Homo sapiens: one gene and its partners. The protein of the gene in region 1 interacts with the protein of each later gene in a pairwise test. Each region holds a gene or a part of one and is shown in the gene's direction. Other genes may lie near its edges.

What was found.
Region 2: the proteins of CDK18 (region 1) and CCDC125 interact in binary tests that used the Homo sapiens proteins (3 or more experiments, as listed by UniProt).
Region 3: the proteins of CDK18 (region 1) and CBY2 interact in binary tests that used the Homo sapiens proteins (3 or more experiments, as listed by UniProt).

The regions. Positions count from the first base shown.
Region 1 is NC_000001.11:205,528,642-205,533,297, forward strand, and holds the end of CDK18 (cyclin-dependent kinase 18), read left to right. Parts: intron 1-357; coding exon 358-455; intron 456-682; coding exon 683-788; intron 789-879; coding exon 880-922; coding exon of another isoform or gene 923-1,132; exon of another isoform or gene 1,133-1,611; intron 1,612-1,617; coding exon 1,618-1,708; intron 1,709-1,986; coding exon 1,987-2,064; intron 2,065-2,702; coding exon 2,703-2,737; 3' UTR 2,738-4,149; downstream 4,150-4,656. UniProt on the Homo sapiens protein: May play a role in signal transduction cascades in terminally differentiated cells.
Region 2 is NC_000005.10:69,280,770-69,287,803, reverse strand, and holds part of CCDC125 (coiled-coil domain-containing protein 125), read left to right. Parts: intron 1-2,336; coding exon 2,337-2,467; intron 2,468-4,769; coding exon 4,770-5,075; 3' UTR 5,076-6,665; coding exon of another isoform or gene 6,666-6,697; 3' UTR 6,698-7,034. UniProt on the Homo sapiens protein: May be involved in the regulation of cell migration.
Region 3 is NC_000013.11:45,705,318-45,712,351, forward strand, and holds part of CBY2 (protein chibby homolog 2), read left to right. Parts: intron 1-7,034.

The DNA.
Region 1 (4,656 bases):
ATTTATGTACTTCTCTTCCAGTGGGGCACACAGTGGAGAGAGTTTGAGACAACACTGCTGAGAGAATTGCCACATGGGCGCTGGCTGCACAGACCCAAACCTCACAGAGTGAAAGGGGACTTTCCTCACAGAGTGAAAGTCGCAGCTTTCCCGAGCCCAGGGAAGCCCCCCAGAGAGGGGCTGTAGTGGGGGCTGGGCAGTTCTAGGAGCCTCCACTGCCCTGGGCCACCCCTCCGCCGCCAGAGCCACGATCCCTGCAGCCGCCTGTGGCAGGTCGTCATTGGTGCCCTGGTGGAGCAGCCCTAGGAAGGGCGGCCGCCCCTGCCTGATGCCGACCCTACCCCTTGCTCCTCGCAGGGGCGTGGGCTGCATCCACTACGAGATGGCCACAGGGAGGCCCCTCTTCCCGGGCTCCACAGTCAAGGAGGAGCTGCACCTCATCTTTCGCCTCCTCGGTCAGTCTCCCGCTGCTCCGTCCCTCTCACCACCAGGGGGCGCCGGAACTCCTCCAGCCCAGGCGCGGAGCGGGACGGGGAGGAGCGGCTCGGCCGCCTCTCTCCCGGGCGGGGACCCCCTGTGGCCTCGGCCATCTTTGCTCCCACCTCATACATTGCATCCCTTTCAAGTCGGCCTTGGCCCTGGGCCTCACGCAGGCCCTCCCCACCCTCTCTCGTCTCCCCAGGGACCCCCACAGAAGAGACGTGGCCCGGCGTGACCGCCTTCTCTGAGTTCCGCACCTACAGCTTCCCCTGCTACCTCCCGCAGCCGCTCATCAACCACGCGCCCAGGTAGCCCCTGCGCCCGCCGCCCCTCCTGCTGCGGCCCTGGCTCTCCCATCCCCAATCAGGCACAGCCTGTGTCCGCGCCTTCTCCTTGCAGGTTGGATACGGATGGCATCCACCTCCTGAGCAGCCTGCTCCTGGTGAGTGTCCTCCCGGCGGGGCCCAGGGAGAGGCAGCCAAAGAGCCAGGTCCCTGTGCCCCATGCCGGGCCTACGCCCCAACTTCTGTGGCTCGTGTGCTTACACGTCTTTGAAACATCTCCCCTGTACTCTCCACCCCCAAGGCCAAGGGGTGGCCTCCATACACATCCTCTGGAGTCTGTGCACTGCGAGCCCAAACCCGTTACTTAGCTGTGTAGCTCTGGGCAAGTTACAGAGCTCCTCCATGCCTCAGTTTCCTCAGCTGCAAAGTGGGATTAATACCTATTTTATAAGATGGCCGTGAGGATACATTGAGATGACGGGACACACTTAGTGTGGTGCCTGTCTTGTAAGGCACACGATGAAGGGTTGTTATCGGCACTACGCTTCCTGTTACGGATGTTCTCCATCTGATCATGGTTGGTTTGCATCTGTATTTCTATCCCAAGAGAAGGTCACTCTCCTGAAGTTTCATTTCTGGTTTTTCCTGGTGGCTGGAGACCGAGGAGCCTTCCCCTGAGTCTTGAGATGGCCTGAGGTTGGGTTTGTGGTAGGGGCTGGAGGCTGACCTGGGGCTTCTCCTGTTAGCCTCAAGCCTCACCCACCTTGGTGCTCTAACCAGCACTGGAGTCCTGCTGCCCAGAGGGTTTGCAGCCCCCCAGCCGGGCCCAATAGCCCCACCCTGTGCCTTTCAGTATGAATCCAAGAGTCGCATGTCAGCAGAGGCTGCCCTGAGTCACTCCTACTTCCGGTCTCTGGGAGAGCGTGTGCACCAGCTTGAAGACAGTGAGTACTGGGGGTCCGGGAGCAGGGCCACCCAGAACCAAGGAAAGGGGTTGGTGAGTGTGGGCAGAAGAACCAGAACAAAGAGGCCAGAGGCCCCAGCCCCAGCAGAGCAGCCCCGGGCACCTTGCCTCCCCTGCTGGGGTTCTCATTCCAAATTGAGGGGGCAAACAGTGGAAATGAGACGCTGCCTCGAGGGCTCAGTTGGTCCTTCTGGGCCAGTCCTTACTGGAGGCCAGCTCCACGCAGCCCTCTCCAGACTATGCACTTCTCTCCCCCAGCTGCCTCCATCTTCTCCCTGAAGGAGATCCAGCTCCAGAAGGACCCAGGCTACCGAGGCTTGGCCTTCCAGCAGCCAGGTAGGGGCTTGTGCTCTCCTGGACCCCTCCCCTTGTTAGTGGAAGCCAGAGCAGGCGACCCCTCCCCAGTGGGGACTCCCATGGTCCCCCCACCACTGGCTTCCCTTTGGACTCTTTGGGGAGCAGAGAAGGGGTTGGTTTCTCCTGCCTAGACTTCCTCGTCCAGCTCTTCCCTCCTCAACCCTCCACCCCAGACAGGACATTGCATTTGACAGTAGCCCTGGCAAAGAGGCATGCTGTCTCTGGTGCATTCTCTCTGCAAACCCTGAGCTCTCTAATCAGATTCCATCCTGGGAGAACGGTACTTTGTTCCTAGAACAGTCAATGGCCTTGGACATTGACAAATGCTTTCCATGCATCGTCTTCTTTAATCCTTAAAATACCCCTTGAAGCTAGTACTATTAATATTCCCCATTTCATAGTCAATGAAACTGAGGCTCTGGGAGGTTAAGTCACAAGTTCATGCAGCTAGTAAGTAGCAGAGATGGGATTTGACACCAGGTCAGACCGGCTCCTGTTTGCATGCCCTTGCTTGCTCTGTCAGAGCAGCTCTGGGGGACAGCGACTGTCCCTGCTGACCTGGGGTACCCGTCAGCCCAGCCTCCTCCCTGCAGCCCCACCTCTTCTCCATTCTCCAGGACGAGGGAAGAACAGGCGGCAGAGCATCTTCTGAGCCACGCCCACCTTGCTGTGGCCAAGGGACAAGAGATCACATGGAGCACAAATTCGGGTAGGATGGAGCCTGTGTGGCCCTCGGAGGACTGAAGAACGAGGGCTGACAGCCAGCCTGGAAGACCGCTTGGCAGCCCTTCTGGCCACGGCTGTTTCTTCTTTGTGCTTCCCGTGTGCCTCCCCAGTAGCCCTCACCTGCATACCAACCCCTCCTTTACCCACGTTGGGGCTGGCATAAGCTGCTTCCCTGAGAGGACATGAGGGGGGGGCGGTCCTCGTACCCTCTCCCACCCTGGTGTTTGGGCACCTGCGTGGGATGCACACGGATGACAGAATCAAGGCGCCAGGATGGGCACTCTGCCCTGGATACAGGCTCTACCCTCCTCCCCCAGGACCTGCCTAGTGCCAGTTTGGTAGTCCCCCTTTCTGGCCCCTTGGAGCCCACACACGTTTCATCTTTTTCCCCTCTGAGAGCAAGAAGAGACATGGCATGTTCTCTGGGACCCTGGAATCCTAGGTACCCACATGTGTGCCAAAGCCTACCCCACCTGGCAGGTGTCCCACAGCAACAGAAGGAATAGTAGTCCCCACTCTTTCCATCAGCCCTACCCTACCCTCATTCCCCGACACCCTCTGGCTTGAACCATGGCTGAGCAGTGCCGGCATACGCTTTGCTGGCATGCTTGGATGCCCAGCTGTGTCCAGAGGTGGCCTGGGACCGCCAGTTGCACGCCTGCCACCTCAGCCAGCCCCCGCCCAGCTCATCAGTCTGAATGGAGTTGCCTTAAATTGGCAGGTGGTACCGTACTCACTGCCCTTGGAGCTGTGACCGGCTCCTGCCTGTCCACCCCTTCCCGAGGTGGCTCCTGCTTACCTTATCATCCCAGGGCTCTGATTAGCCAGGCCTGGTCAGGGTCCTGGGGACGGCACCCAGATATGCAGAGTCACCCTGACACTGGTGCCAGGCTGACCTCAGCTCCCGAAGGCTCGCACAGCCTCCCCATCCTTCCTTCCCAGCCCTTGTGGCTCTGTCCACCTGATCCCAATACCAGCTTCCCCCAGCCCCTGCCACCCCAGAGGGCGGCCACGACAGGGAGAGGTGTAGATGCCACCATCTGAGGGAGAGGAACGTGGAACAGGAGCAGGCTCTGATGCTGAGAGGCTTGCCTCCGGGGGCTGGAAGCCTGGGTGGCCGGGGCCCCTGAAGAAGGCTCCCCTCTGTATCCCCCAGGTCTCCTCAACACTGGGCTGATCCTGAATGGCACAGGCCAAGGGGAGGCCAGCCTCGCCTTTCTACCCAGGCCCCCTGCCCTGCCCACCTCAGGCCCCCACCCTCCACTCCTCCCCACGGTACTGTGAACGTCGTGTGACTCAGTGCAGAGACAGATAATATATTTAATTCATGTACAGAAAGGAGCGAGCAGTCTCGTACAGAAAAGCTGACTTTGATAGATTGATGCCAAAGATGGAGAACTGAAGTCCCCCCTCCAGGCCTAATGAGTGTGGGTGGGGTGTGCTTGTGTGTATGTGTGTGTGTGTGTGTGTGTGTGTGTGTGTGTGTATATATATATATATATATATATATATATAGTGAGGAGAGAGTTTGATTTGTGTGTATCTCTGACCTCCCCTACACCCCAGGCTGTGGGACGAGTGCCTAGCATTCACCTTGCTGTATCCTGGGTGCTGCTGCGTTCAGAGCCAGAAGTTGGCTCTTGCTGAGGAGCATCAGTGGTTGTTGTGGGTGGGCAGAGGAGTCCCAGGCCTGGGAGTCTGACCTGTGGCCTGGCATTGGCCCAAGTTGGTGCCTGTGGGGTGGGGCTGGCCAGGAGAGCAAAGAGGGACCCCTGGGCGGGGGTCTGGGGTCTGGCCGTGCAGCTAATCCCTGTGTTCCTGATGCCAAATGGCCCCCTGGCTTCT
Region 2 (7,034 bases), on another chromosome or scaffold:
TGAGCTCAGGAGTTTGAGACCAGGCTGGGCAACATAGGGAGACCCTGTCTCTATTAAAAAAAAAAAAATAGCCAAGTGTGGTGGTAGATACCTGTGGTCTCAGCTACTAGGGAGGCTGAAGTGGGAGGATCGCTTGAGCCTGGGAGGCTGAGGCTGCAGTGAGTCATGATCCCACCACTGCAGTCCAGCCTGGGTGATGGAGCAAGACCCTGTCTCAAAAAAAAAAAACCACCAAAAACTGATGGCCGGGTGCAGTGGCACGCCTGTAATCTCAGGACTTTGGGAGGCTGAGGTGGGTGGATCACTTGAGGTCGGGAATTTGAGACCAGCCTGACCAACATGGAGAAACCCTGTCTCTACTAAAAATACAAAATTGGCTGGGTGTGGTGGCACAAGCCTGTAATCCCAGCTACTCGGGAGGCTGAGGCAGGAGAAATGTTTGAACCCGGGAGGCAGAGGTTGTGGTGAGCCAAGATTGCGCTGTTGCACTCCAGCCTGGGCGACAAAAGCGAGACTCCATCTCAAAAAAAAAAAAAAAAATTGATTAATCTCGCACAGCTTTTATAAATCTATACAAGTTTGAGTAGTTCTTTCTCAGTTTCTCAGTGACAAGACTTTAATTCATTTTATTAGTATATTTCAGTAATCTTAAGAGGTACAGGGTGATACAGATTATTTTATGTTTAGTAACACTTAATATCAACTTTCTTTTTGATATGGCAGTTTAGACAAGTTTCCGGAAGTAGTTTATAGGCATACTTCTTTCTTTCTTTGTATTTTTGCTTTTGGGTTTTTTTTTTTTTTTTTTTATCTTAAACTCCTGGGCTTAAGCAATCCTCCAGACTACCAGCTTGAGCCATCACACCAAGCTATTTCTTTTTTTAGACTGAAAATAGGGACACAGATTCATCTACTCATCAAAGTGTCAGTTTCTCTGACTTCTGTTTGCCACAGCTCCTCGTGGAAGGGGTCAGGGCCGCCCTCGTCACTGTGGTCTGTCAGGATTGGTGGGAAGGGGATCTCCCCTCATCTGCTCTCAGTTTCCCACTAAACCACTTTTGGAGAATATTCCAAAAACATTCTTGAAATTTTCCTTGTACAATCTGAGATTTTATAACTTCTGCAAATTACTTTCCTTCAATGGATGAAGAAGGACATCAATGATGTCAGCACGTGAAATATTAAATATTATGCTAATACCTGAGCAGGGCCTTTGACAATTGTGGTATTTTTTGTTGTTGTCGTGATGGTGGTAAAATATATCTAAAGTTGGCCGGGCGCGGTGGCTCACGCCTGTAATCCCAGCATTTTGGGAGGCCAAGAGGGGGCGAATCATGAGGTCAGGAGATCGAGACCATCCTGGCTAACACAGTGAAACCCCATCTCTACTAAAAATACAAAAAAATTAGCCGGACGTGGTGGCGGGCGCCTGTAGTCCCAGCTACTCGGGAGGCTGAGGCAGGAGAATGGCGCGAACCCGGGAGGCGGAGCTTGCAGTGAGCCGAGATTGCGCCACTGCACTCCAGCCTGGGTGACAGAACAAGACTCCATCTAAAAAAAAAAAAAAATTATATATATATATATATATATATATATATATATATATATATATATAGTTTACCATTTGAACTGTTTTTAAGTGGTATTAAGTATATTCACATTGTAATGTAACCTTCATCACCATCCAGCTCCAGAACATTTTCATCTTTCTTTACAGAGACCCTGTCCCATGAAACAGTAACTCCTCACTTCCCCTTCTCCAGCCCGTGTGATTTATTATTTAATGGCACAGTTCCCTGAGAAGAAGGTAATGCTATTCTCATTTTAGAGATGAGGAAATCAAGCTGAGAAAAGTCACCCGAGGTCATACAGTTAGTAAGTGGCTGAATGAGGATTCAAGTCCAGGTCTTTGCTGTTCGGAAGCAGAGTTTGCATGGCTCAGAGGCCCCCTGTGGCCTGCAGACATGTTTTGTTAGGTTGGCTTAGTGTAGTCAAACAATAAGACTAGTGGCTGACATTTAGAATTGGAAGATGTCATGACAGATCTGCATTTCTGGCTGCTCTTGAAGACTGTGATGATCCAGTGACATGGACTGTGTTCTTGTGTGGCCTGTGTGTCAGCTGGCACAGAGGGGTGGCTGTGCCGCATGGCAGGGCGGCACTCTTGCTGCCTCTCACCTGCATTGCTCCTGGCTCTGAAGGCTGTGCTCTGCTCACTACATTCCACTGTGTGCTCCTGGACTCACTTGTCCTAGAGATCAAGTTACCTCTTTTGCTGGAAGTATATCAGTGAGGATATTTTAATGTCTCAGCTGGATTCTCATGTTCAATTTTAGGATTTCCATCACCAAGGAGTAAGAAGACCTTCGGGCAGAGACTGTTGGGTATGCTCCCTTCAGAAAACAGTTCTAAGAGGATGGAAGACCAGGACAGTCCTCAAGAGGTCCTTAAGATGCTCATAGATTTGGTTAGTGTCTTTGCTTTTTTTTGCAGGTTATGGTTAAGCCAAGCTTGTCCAACCCACGGTCCGTGGGGAGCATGCAGCCCAGAACAGCTTTGAATGTGGCCCAACACAAATTCGTAAACTTTCTTAAAACATTATGAGATCTTTTTGATATATATATATATTTTTTTAGTTCATCAGCTATCATTAGTGTTAGTGTATTTTTTTGTTTTGTTTGTTTTTTGGTTTTTTTGTTTGTTTGGTTTTTGAGACAGAGTCTCTGTCACCCAGGCTGGAGTGCAGCGGCGCGATCTCGGCTCACTGCAACCTCCACCTCCCGGGTTCAAGCAATTCTCCTGCCTCAGCCTCTAGAGTAGCTGGGACTGCAGGCGCCCACCACCACGCCTGGCTAATTTTGTGTGTGCGTTTTTAGTAGAGACAGGATTTCACCATGTTGGCCAGGCTGGTCTCAAACTCCTGACCTCAAGTGATCTGCCCACCTCGGCATCCCAAAGTGCTGGGATTACAGGCGTGACCCACCATGCCCAGCCAGTGTTAGTGTATTTTATGTGTGGCCCAAGACAATTCTTCTTCTTCCAGTGTGGCCCAGGGAAGCCAAAAGATTGGACACCCCTAGGTTAAGCTAATCTATTTGCTTCCTGTTAATTCAACTCTTTATCTCTCTAGACTTGCACTTGCCTTCTATGTCCTTTTCCCAGTTGGAGTACCAGACTCTACCTTCATGATCTTTATCTCCCTCAGCTCATCTTTTCTCGTCATTCATATTCTTTCTGTGCAGGTTTAAAGGCTCCATCTTGGAAAACAGGGGGCTCCTGTAGTTAACTCCAGCCAGCTTTGCCATCTACATTTATATATATACAGTTTGTGACAAGTCTGCCTGTTTATTGAGGCATTTTTAAAGTGTTCAAGGCATTTCCTCACACATTATATCCTTTACAGTCCTGCTACCCACATTCCACATGGAATGACTAAACTAAGACACTGAGACTCAGGTTATATGAACATACTTATCTCTAGACTGTTATATATTTGCATACAAATATATGAAAGCAATTTTATATACAAATAACTTCAACATTATTTTATAAATATGCACGTTGATATATTTTTTATATGTTGATATTATATACCTATATATACACACTTCATATAGATCTATATTTTCCCTTCATTTCCAGATGACTTGCAAAATTTTCAATGCTGTCTTCTGTTTTTTTTTTTAAAAAATTATTTTTAAAAAATAATCGTCGGGGCTGGGCACAGTGGCTCATGCCTGTAATCCCAGCACTTTGGGAAGCCGAGGCGGGTGGATCATGAGGTCAGGAGATCGAGACCATCCTGACTAACACGGTGAAACTGTCTCTACTAAAAATACAAAAAATTAGCCAGGTGTGGTGGCTGGCACCTGTAGTCCCTAGCTACATGGGAGGCTGAGACAGGAGAATGGTGTGAACCCAGGAGAGCGGAGCTTGCAGTGAGCCAAGATCATGCAACTGCACTCCAACCTGGGTGACAGAGCGAGACTCTGTCTCAAAAAAAAAAAAAAATTGTCAGCCTGGCATGGTGGCACACATCTGTAATTCCAGCACTTTGGGAGGCCGAGGCGAGTGGATCACTTGAGGCCAGGAGTTCGAGACCAGCCTACAAAAATTAGCAAGGTGTGGTGGTGCACGCCTATAGTCCCAGCTACTCTACTCGGGAGGGTGAGGCCCAAGAATCACTTGAGCCTGGGAGGCAGAGGCTGCAGTGAGCCAAGATGGCATCACTGCATTCCAGCCTGGGCAACAGAGCCAGACCCTGTCTTAAAAAAAAAAAGAATTGGCCGGGCACGGTGGCTCACGCCTGTAATCCCAGCACTTTGGGAGGCCAAGGTGGGCTGATCACAAGGTCAGGAGATTCAGACCATCCTGGCAAACACAGTGAAACCCCGTCTCTACTAAAAAATGCAAAAAATTAGCTGGGTGTGGTGGCGGGCACCTGTGGTCCCAGCTACTTGGGAGGCTGAGGCAGGAGAATAGTGTGAACCTGGGAGGCAGAGCTTGCAGTGAGTGGAGATAGTGCCACTGCACTCCAGCCTGGGTGACAGAGCCAGACTCCGTCTCAAAAAAAAAAAAAAAAAGATTCATGAATAACATGTAGTATAATGTTTGGGGATCAGGTGATACCTAATTTATTCATACTGATGGACAGATCAGTATGAATATTAGGGTTGAATAACTTGATAAAATAGTACAATACTCCTTTCTCTGAATATATTCTGTGATTTATTGACTAACTTGTACATGTTTAATTTCTGTGCATGCAGCTTAATGATAAAGAAGAAGCTTTGGCTCATCAAAGAAAAGTTAGCTACATGCTTGCTCGGGCATTGGAAGACAAAGACACTGCTTCAAACGAGAATAAAGAAAAAAATCCTATAAAAGAGAATTTCCCTTTCAACAACCCCTGGCGTAAGACTTCAGAATTCTCTGTTTTGGGTGATCCTATACATTCAAGTGTCTGCATTTTAAATTCTGTGGGCTGCATTTGTTCAATCCAGCACTCTCAAATAGATCCAAACTATAGAACTCTTAAAAGATCCCATTCTTTGCCATCAAGTATCATATTTTAAAGACAAGCCAGTTGAAATTGGAACTGAGAGTTGTTTATATCGAGATACTTTGAAAAATGATTTTGTAAATTTTGCTGCATCTTGAGAAGTTGTATGTTTCCTAGGTATTTCTAAATTTTAGGAGGTCACTTAAATCAAATATTTTCTACATTTTCTTTTTCTTCTTTTGAGATGGAGTCTTGCTCTGTCACCCAGGTTGGAGTGCAGTGGTGTGATCTCGGTTCACTGCAACCTCCGCCTCCCGGTTCAAGCAATTCTCCTGCCTCAGCCTCCCGAGTAACTCGGATTACAGGCATGTGCCACCACGCCCAGCTAATTTTTGTATTTTTAGTAGAGACGGGGTTTTACCATGTTAGCCAGGCTGATCTTGAACTCCTGACCTCAAGTGATCCGCCTGCCTTGGCCTCCGAAAGTGCTGGGATTACAGGCGTGAGCCACCACACCCAGCCTATTTTCTACATTTTCTACAAGAAATTAGTATTCTGTGTTGACATTTTATTTATAAATTACATTACTGTATTTATAAATTACATTACAGGCTGGGCATGGTGGCTCATGCTTATAAATCCCAGCACTTTGGGAGGCCAAGGTGGGTGGGTCACCTGAGGCTGGAGTTCAAGACCAGTCTGACCAACATGGAGAAACCCCATCTCTACTAAAAATACAAAAAATTAGCTAGGCCTAGTGGCGCATGCCTGTAATCCCAGCTACTTGGGAGGCTGAGGTAGGAGAATCGCTTGAACCTGGGAGGCGGGGGTTGTGGTAAGCCGAGACTGTGTCATTGCACTCCAGCCTGGGCGACAAGAGCGAAACTCTGTCTCAAAAAAAAAAAAAAACACATTACAGTGTTTGCCAACATCCTAAAACAAAAAATAATGATTTTTGGGAAAAACAAAAAATTATTTAACTATTTTGATTGACTATAGGGATCTTAGCTTGGCTAAATCAACAATATAGCAATGTATCTTAATGCTCTAAAAAGTAACAATACCTAGGACTGACTGAATGTTAATTTCTGGAATTCATTTATCTTGTTTTATTTGCCTTGTTCAGTATTTTTCATTTACCATATGAAGTTTAGAAATAACAATTTCCTTAAGTTAACTTCAATAAGACAGTTTTGATGGTGGGACCTTGGCAGAAGTATATTGAGTCAGTGCCGGCTGCGTTCATGGCTTCTTGTCAGGGTAGTAACATTTTGCAACCAAATCTGCACAGATTTGTAGCCAAGTCTACAAAGTGCTTAACAGCTCTTTTCATTGCATCCTGTGAGATGGTTGTGATGATCCAGGAAATGGGGTCTCAGGAATCTGAAGAAGCTGCCTGAGCCAAGGTGATTTCTAGGAGTTTTTTTGTTTGTGGTATGTGAATTGGGGTGTGTGGGGGTGGGGTGTGTGTGTAGACAGGGTCCCACTGTGTTGCTCAGGCTGGTGCCAAACTCCTGGCCTCAAGGGATCCTCCTGCCTCAGCCTCTCAAAGTGCTGGGATTACAGGCATAAACCACAACTCAATAAAAAAGTTTTTAAAAATTTACAAAGCTCATATTTGATCCAGCTAGGATTTTACCCTGTACATTTGTATTTCTTGTAGGCTGGCGCACAGATATCTTAAATGGCTACTAATTGCTGCTGTGTATGAAAACAAATGGCTATCAAGGCCGGGTGCAGTGGCTTACAGATCTGGTCTGAATCTCAAGTCCAGACCAGTCCAGAGTTCAAGACCAGCCTGGGCAACATGGTGAAACCCCATCTATACAAAAACTCGGCAAGGCATGGTGGCATGCACCTGTTGTCCCAGCTACTCAGGGGCTGAGGCAGGAGGATGGCATGAGCCCAGGAGCTTGAGGCTGCAGTGAGCTGTGATTGTGCCACTGCACTCCAGCCTGAGTGACAGAGTGAGACCCCCATCTCCAAAAGAAAAGGCTATCAATACAAAAGTTTATCTAAATTACTGTACAGC
Region 3 (7,034 bases), on another chromosome or scaffold:
TGAATTTCATTAAGGCATTGTTTACTCCTAGATCATTAATGAAAGAGCTACACCAGGTCAGACTGAGCTCCAATAGCACCCTCCGGTGCCTCCTTCATCCTTCCCAGTTGCCTTTTCTCCTTCCCCTTTGTTTGTGCTTGTTACTCAGAAGCAGTGAATTCCTGCTGACAGCACCCGCCAATTTGAATTCCCAGGAAGATTTCAGGAGAGTCTCTGTTAAACAGTATGCAAACATACTACATATGACATCTTCTTTATCCTCTTTGCTGTTAACGTTGTAATTCTGTCAACATCAATCACATTTACCTTGTGAATTATCCTTTTACCTGTTAGTATTTATTAAAACCACCATTGACTTTGCCATGGTACCAGGGAGCTGAATTAATTTAAAATAATGATAATGAGACTCAGCCTTGTCATCTCATATGAAAATCAGTATCATATTTGGCTTTTCCTTCCAGAATCCTGGGTCCTCTCAACTTCACATGCTTTAATAGTACCTCAGATGGCTGAATGTTCTCTGATAGTAACCCTCAGTAATGTTGGCAAAGTTGGTGTTTAAGAAACTTGGTCAGCAGGCTTGGACTCTATCAGCAGTGTTTGGACATCTCTTCTGGGCTGTGGTAGCCACATTTTTCCAGGGGTGGAGAGACATCAGTGTGTGTCAGCTAAGCCTGGCTAGTTGCTGTTCAATCCCATCCCCAAACTCTTTGGATGGGAAACCACACCCCCAGTAATTCTATCCCAGAAGGTCCCACCCAGAGAGACCTGTTGCTACAAGTCCTGTAGCACTAGTAAGAGATTTTGGTCCTTTCACTTCCCCTTTTCCTTTTGCCCTTTGGCCTTTGCATTTTGCCTCCCTTCTTTCAATTGTCCCCTTCCCCCATGTTCTTCACTTGCCACCAGGTTGGTGATCTGACAAAGACACAGTTGTTGGCAGATTTCAGGCATTTTCCTTCCAGGACCACTTATATTTACCAAGGAGGGCACCAGACCTAATGCTAAGGAAGAATTCCAATCCACAGATGGGACTTCAGGCTTCTGTGAGGGCGATGTTCGTGCCCATGGCCCTTCCTGGATCCCTGTCACTAATGCATCATTGGGTTACAGCTATGAGCACATTTCCCCTGAGGACAGAGTCTCTTGGCACCTTTCTAGCACCCGACAGGAAGGCATGATGAGCCCATGACCAACTTATTCCCCTTCTGCATCAGCTTCATATCTCATTCCTCCATGAAGAAGCCAACCTTTTTCTTTCCTACCTACTGGATCTCTATGTGAGGGCATTTCCTAGAGACCAGAAAAGAGACAATCTTTTATTTTCATGGTCAGTTGCACCATGCTACACAGGCTGTACCTCCCAGGCTTAGGAGAACATTACTGGGGTGTTCTTGGGGCTTTGTATTGGCATAGACCTCTTGTCAAGGGCTAAAGGATATCAGGGCAGGTTAGCTTGGCCCATGAAACCAATCCAGTGATACCACTGGTCGAGGAGTCCTACTGAGAAGGAACTGGCTTCTAACATAGGCCAAGGAGGTCTGGAATCCTGGAACTGCATATGTTCGCTGAGCTCAGATGCTTAGTTTTTGGGTAGCCCTTTTGTAAAGAAATATACTCCACGTTGCATAGCGCTTTAGGCTGGGTATGTTTAAACCTTACCAGTAGAACTGACCATCTGTTTAGTCTTTATGACAGCTTGGCTACCACTTTCTTGTCCTCTGGCAACCCCAGGAAGTAGGCAGAGCAGCCATGTTTAGGCTTATTTTAGAGGTGACATTCTGAGAGGCAAAATGACTTTCTCAAGAGCAGTCAAAGGAAGGACTTTTGAGCCCAAAGTTACTGGAAATTTAGGGCGTTTACCCTCGTTGGATTATATATTCAAGATGATGAAAGGGACCACTAGCGTGCTTGTGTGCAGGGGGTGGTGGGAGCTTCCTCTAAGGGAGTACATGGATGAACCTAGGGGTTTGTGGAATTCACGTGAGGAAAACTCCATGCTTATAGATTTTACATCATACCATAACAGCTTTGCCCTGGGACTATTTTAAAGTCTTAAAATATGAATGGAAATGAGGATATAGCTTATCAAATACACTAACTATATTAAGGCAAAAGAAATGGCCATTTTTGTAGGCCAAAAATGGTAAAATGTTAACAGTTTCTTATGGTTCAACCTAGTATTTCCTCCCAATCTTTCAGTGTATTTTGGTTGATTCAGTTATTGCCAAGGACTCATTAAGCCTCCACCACATGTGAAATTTGCTTTCTAATTCCCAAGACTTGGGATGTCACAAAAACAAGGGATAGGTCACTGTGCTTAGATAATTGCAACTTACTCATATGGGGAGAGGACAGGCCTGGTTGTAAGAGAACCATTGCAAAGTAATGATATTAGCACATGCAAAATAAAATGTCTGAGCATTGTGAAGTGCTAGAATAAACATGGAGTTTGGAGTCAAATATCCTCATTTTAAACCCTGGTTCCACTCCTTTATCAGCTATGTAATCTTATGCAGAATCATGCCAGTTCTTTGGGTAAGATATTACATATGAATACAGAAATCAATTAGCATATAACCTGACACATTATAGTCACTCAGTGTTATTTTTTTTCTTGTTCTATATAATCTTTCTCTAAAGAAATGCTAAGCAATGTCTCTTCTAAAAGCCCTTCTTGTATGTCTGCAGCTCTTTATAAACAAAGAAAATGTTCCGAGTCTCCTTTTATTTCTGAACAACAAACCCTCTGAGAGAAGTAGGGCAGATGTTGGTGAGGTCGTTATAGAGGGTTGTACAGGTTGTGCCCTGCAGTAACAGTGAATAGCGCCTTTTAGAGTTGGGCATTTCAAAAATATATGGGTTGGCCCTGATTCATTCATGTCAACATCCACATTTTCTAGGAACTAAGGCACAGAAATGAAGTGACTTTGTAAAGGTCATGCACTCATATAGTGCAGAGCCAGAATTCTCTGGAGATGTTATCATTTCTAGTCCCCTATTCCCCACACCTTGCTGCCTGCGTTAATGCTTCCTGCATTTTGACTTCTCTCATTTGCATCAAGAAGTAATTGGTGCTATTCACTGATTCTTCAAATCAACTGGAAATTCCCTGAGGGCAGGGTCTGTGAGCTTGGAACACAGTACGTGCCAAATTAATGTTAGTTGATTCACTGACACTAATGTAGGGGAAAAATTGGTGCAATAACATCCTGAGTGGGTACATGACTAGGGTGAAGAATTTTCACAAGGCCAAGAGCTTTCCTTTAAGGATTAAATCCAGCTAGCTCTGATCAGAATCAGAGAAATGCTACAGGAAAAAACAAGTTTGTTCTGGATCAATGTTTTCCTGAAGTTCAATCATGATCCTTGTCATGTCTAAAAATGCCTGTATATTTAATATAGGTATGTTTTCCCATTACTCATTAAAATAAGTATATGACTACTGAAAAATTTTTAAATGTTCTAAGAAATTAAGCCATGAGGAAACACTGCACTTGACCACTTTCTTGGTCCTGTCTGAGGATAGGAGGAAAGATAATAGGACTCAGTCATTGGAGAAGAATTTGGTTTCCTGTTGAGAAAGTAAAGGGGACTTATTTGTCCATCAGCATTTCCTGGATTAGGTGCTGTGGGCATGGAACAAGAGAAGGCACAAAGCCTGCTTGGGAAGAGTTGGCCATTTAGGGGAGAGGACGAGATGCCAACTAGGTTGGTAAAAGAGGGCTGCTGGGGCCATAGTGGTGCCAATTTACAAATGCAAATCCACTGGACCAGAGACAGTTAGGCCAAGAGAGCACTTAGAGATAATGACTCTTACCCTTCATTTTACAGAAGTGGAAACTAAGGTCAGAAAGTGAGTGGATATGAGCAAGATCACCTGAATGTGTGAATAAAGACCAGGGCACAAACACCCAGGTTGTCCGTGGCTAGGGATCCACCATATGTTAAGGTTTTGTTTAGTGTATTTCTGTTGAGGGGATGACAGAATGTTCCTTGGGTACCCAGTGTGGAAGGTGGATGTAGAACACAGGCAGCTGAATGCCATGGGTTAAAAGCCATCATGGCCAAATATGGACAGGTAGAAAGCATCCATGATTCCTCTTTGGACCCTTAGTTGGATCAAGAAGATTGTCTCTCTGGCTGAAACAAAACGATCGTTAAAAAGAAATGAGAATTGGGGAAATTTGAACATGGGCTCAGTATTCGCAGATATTGAGGGATAATTGTTAAATGTTAAAGGGTGATAATGGTATTGTGATTCTGTTAAAGAGGCACATATTTATATATTTGTGGATAAGATGACACAATGTCACTTTGCTTTAAGATAACCTAGCGGTAGGGGAGTGGTTGTGGAATCAGGTTGAGGCCTGGTGAAACAAGTGTGGCCTTGATTTGATACTTGGTGAAGCTGAGTGATGGGTACATGGACATTTATTAGACTATTCTCTCTCTTTTTGTGTATGTTTGAAATTTTCCATCATATAAATTGAAGGAAAAGATATCATGTTCCCCAAAGTACTGCAGGACTTTTGATAAATCCATGGTGGTTTCCCATGTGTGTACTTCACACATAGAAGGTCAGGGAGCCAGAAGTGGGTTTGTGTCTTAGTGAAGGAGCTAGTGCTGGTTATTTAACATCTCTGAGTTTCAGTTTCTCCATCTGTAAAATAAGAATAGTAATAATATCTTACATGTCAGTGTGGTGAGGATAAAATGAATTTAGTAGGTAGAATGCTCAGCTCACGGCCTAGCATGAAATTGAGGCTTAATATTTGTTTCCTTCTTCCATTTTCTTCTCAGGACTGGGATGCACATGTTGACTAAAACCACATTTTTCCATGTTGATAGCTTCTGGAGTCAAATCCTGCTGAGATAAAGTATTAGTTCTAGTGCAAGGATGGAGAGAACCTCTTAAGATTCACTCCTGCCAGGCACGGTGGCTCATGCCTATAATCCTAGCACTTTGGGAGGCAGAGGCAGGCAGATCACAAGGTCAAGAGATCGAGACCATCCTGGCCAACATGATGAAACCCCGTCTCTACTAAAATACAAAAAATTAGCCAGGCGTGGTGGCACGCGCCTGTAGTCCCAGCTACTCTGGAGGCTGAGGCAGGAGAATTGCTTGAACCCGGAAGGCGGAGGTTGCAGTGAGCCGAAATCGTACCACTGCACTCCAGCCTGGGCGACAGAGTGAGACTCCGTCTCAAAACAACAACAACAACAACAACAAAAACCACCACCACAACAAAACATTCACGTCTTTGGCTTTGACCAGTCTTCCCAGAAATCCTGGATCTCAGGACCTTAAACCTATCAGAAAATGGTCTAGGTTATCCACAGTGAGGTTCATTCTGATCACAGACAGCTACAGGAGCCAATCTGCTTTCCCAGTTGAGAAATGTGAAAACCAGGGAGGCTGAACTTTTTTAAACTAAATAAAATTCCGCTTGCAGAATGCCCTCATACCCTTGCTATCTGGAAGATTGAGCGTATCCTTACAAAGTTAATGACATGTGCTTATTGCAAAGTTAATGGCATAGAACTGCATCTTCTATTTATCTAGCTCTTTAAGTTTTAAAGAATTCTAACCAACTTTATATACCATGCAAATTGTGTTTCTCTCTCTACATACACCCACACATATATATATAATGTAGTTAGCCTGACTTGTTTTTTATTTTCTCTATCTGTACGGTTGTGAAAGTAACCTAAGACATAAGGAATTGATATCTGGAGAGCATTTTGATATACTTGGATGAAGTACTTTTGGTGTATTTGGAAGTAGCTATCATGATCTGTTTACTTAAATTCATGGCTGCAATCATCACCTCTTCTCTAGTGTGCATTCTACTTGCTCACTTCTTTTTGAATACATCTTATAATTCTTGCATTAGTGAAATCTACTCTTCTTGATAATAATACCTTATGGTTCTTTGGCACTGTTGGTTTTAAAAATATTTTTGCATTCATTATCTCATTTAATCCTCACAACAGTGTTGTGAACTAAGCAGGGCACATATTATTTCTATTTTACAGGTATATTTCATTGACTTTTCAATGTTGGAAGGTGCCTTTAAGATCATGGAGCCCGACTCCCTCTTTTTCACTCGTGAAAAGTCTGGGTCTCAAAGAGGATAAGAGAGCTGTCTGGTTTCAAAGTGCCCATCAGTGACAAAATCAGGATGAGAATTCTTGTGACCTTTCAGTCTGTAATGCTGGTGCAACCCTCACTTAAGCAAATTGCCTATTCTACTTGACTTAGATCTGTCCTAACCACCTGCAGCCAGGAACACCTGAAGGAGCTGGTTAGAAATGCAGATTCCTGGGCCACACCCCAGTCTGAGTAAATCAGACTCACAATGGGAGGCTCAGAAATCTGCATTTAAAACTCACTGGAGTTATTTTTCTGTACTGGGATGTGTGAAAGCTACCAGCTCATTGGAGTTAAGCTCTGTGGATCTGAGCCCCGTTTTATGCTGTGGTCTTGAGGTCTATGGCCACCATCATGAATTCCTCAGGGTCCTTGACTGGCTTTATCACCACATGTTGAACGCTCATTGCTCAGTGATATGTCTGGGATGGGTTTTCTTTCTTTCCAAAATTATTAGTTAGACTCTGCTTTGAGTCTAGCATTGCATTAGAAGCTGGGGTGAATGTTTAAGGGGCTGCTAGCAGAAAAGACTCAAGGGTGGCTAAGAGTGAAGGATATGCCCAGATGGGCAAGAGAGAAGGCTGGGCTGACCAACGGCACCGCCATTTTGGACACAGCAATTTGGGTGGCTGTTTGGATGATTCATGCTGCTTCTCTGCTCATGCTAAGTGTGAGTACACATCTGTGGGTGGTGGCCCTTGAGAACAGTGTTTGTTCCTCCTTTAGGGTGACAGAATGTGCCAGAGCCCATGCTTAGTGCTTTTGTACATTGCCTTTTTTAATCCTAAAAATGTCTCTATGAGGCAAGGAGTAAATGCAATTATCCCAATTTGAAAATGTGGAAATTAAAGCTCAAATAACTTGCTCAAATTCTTGTTAATTG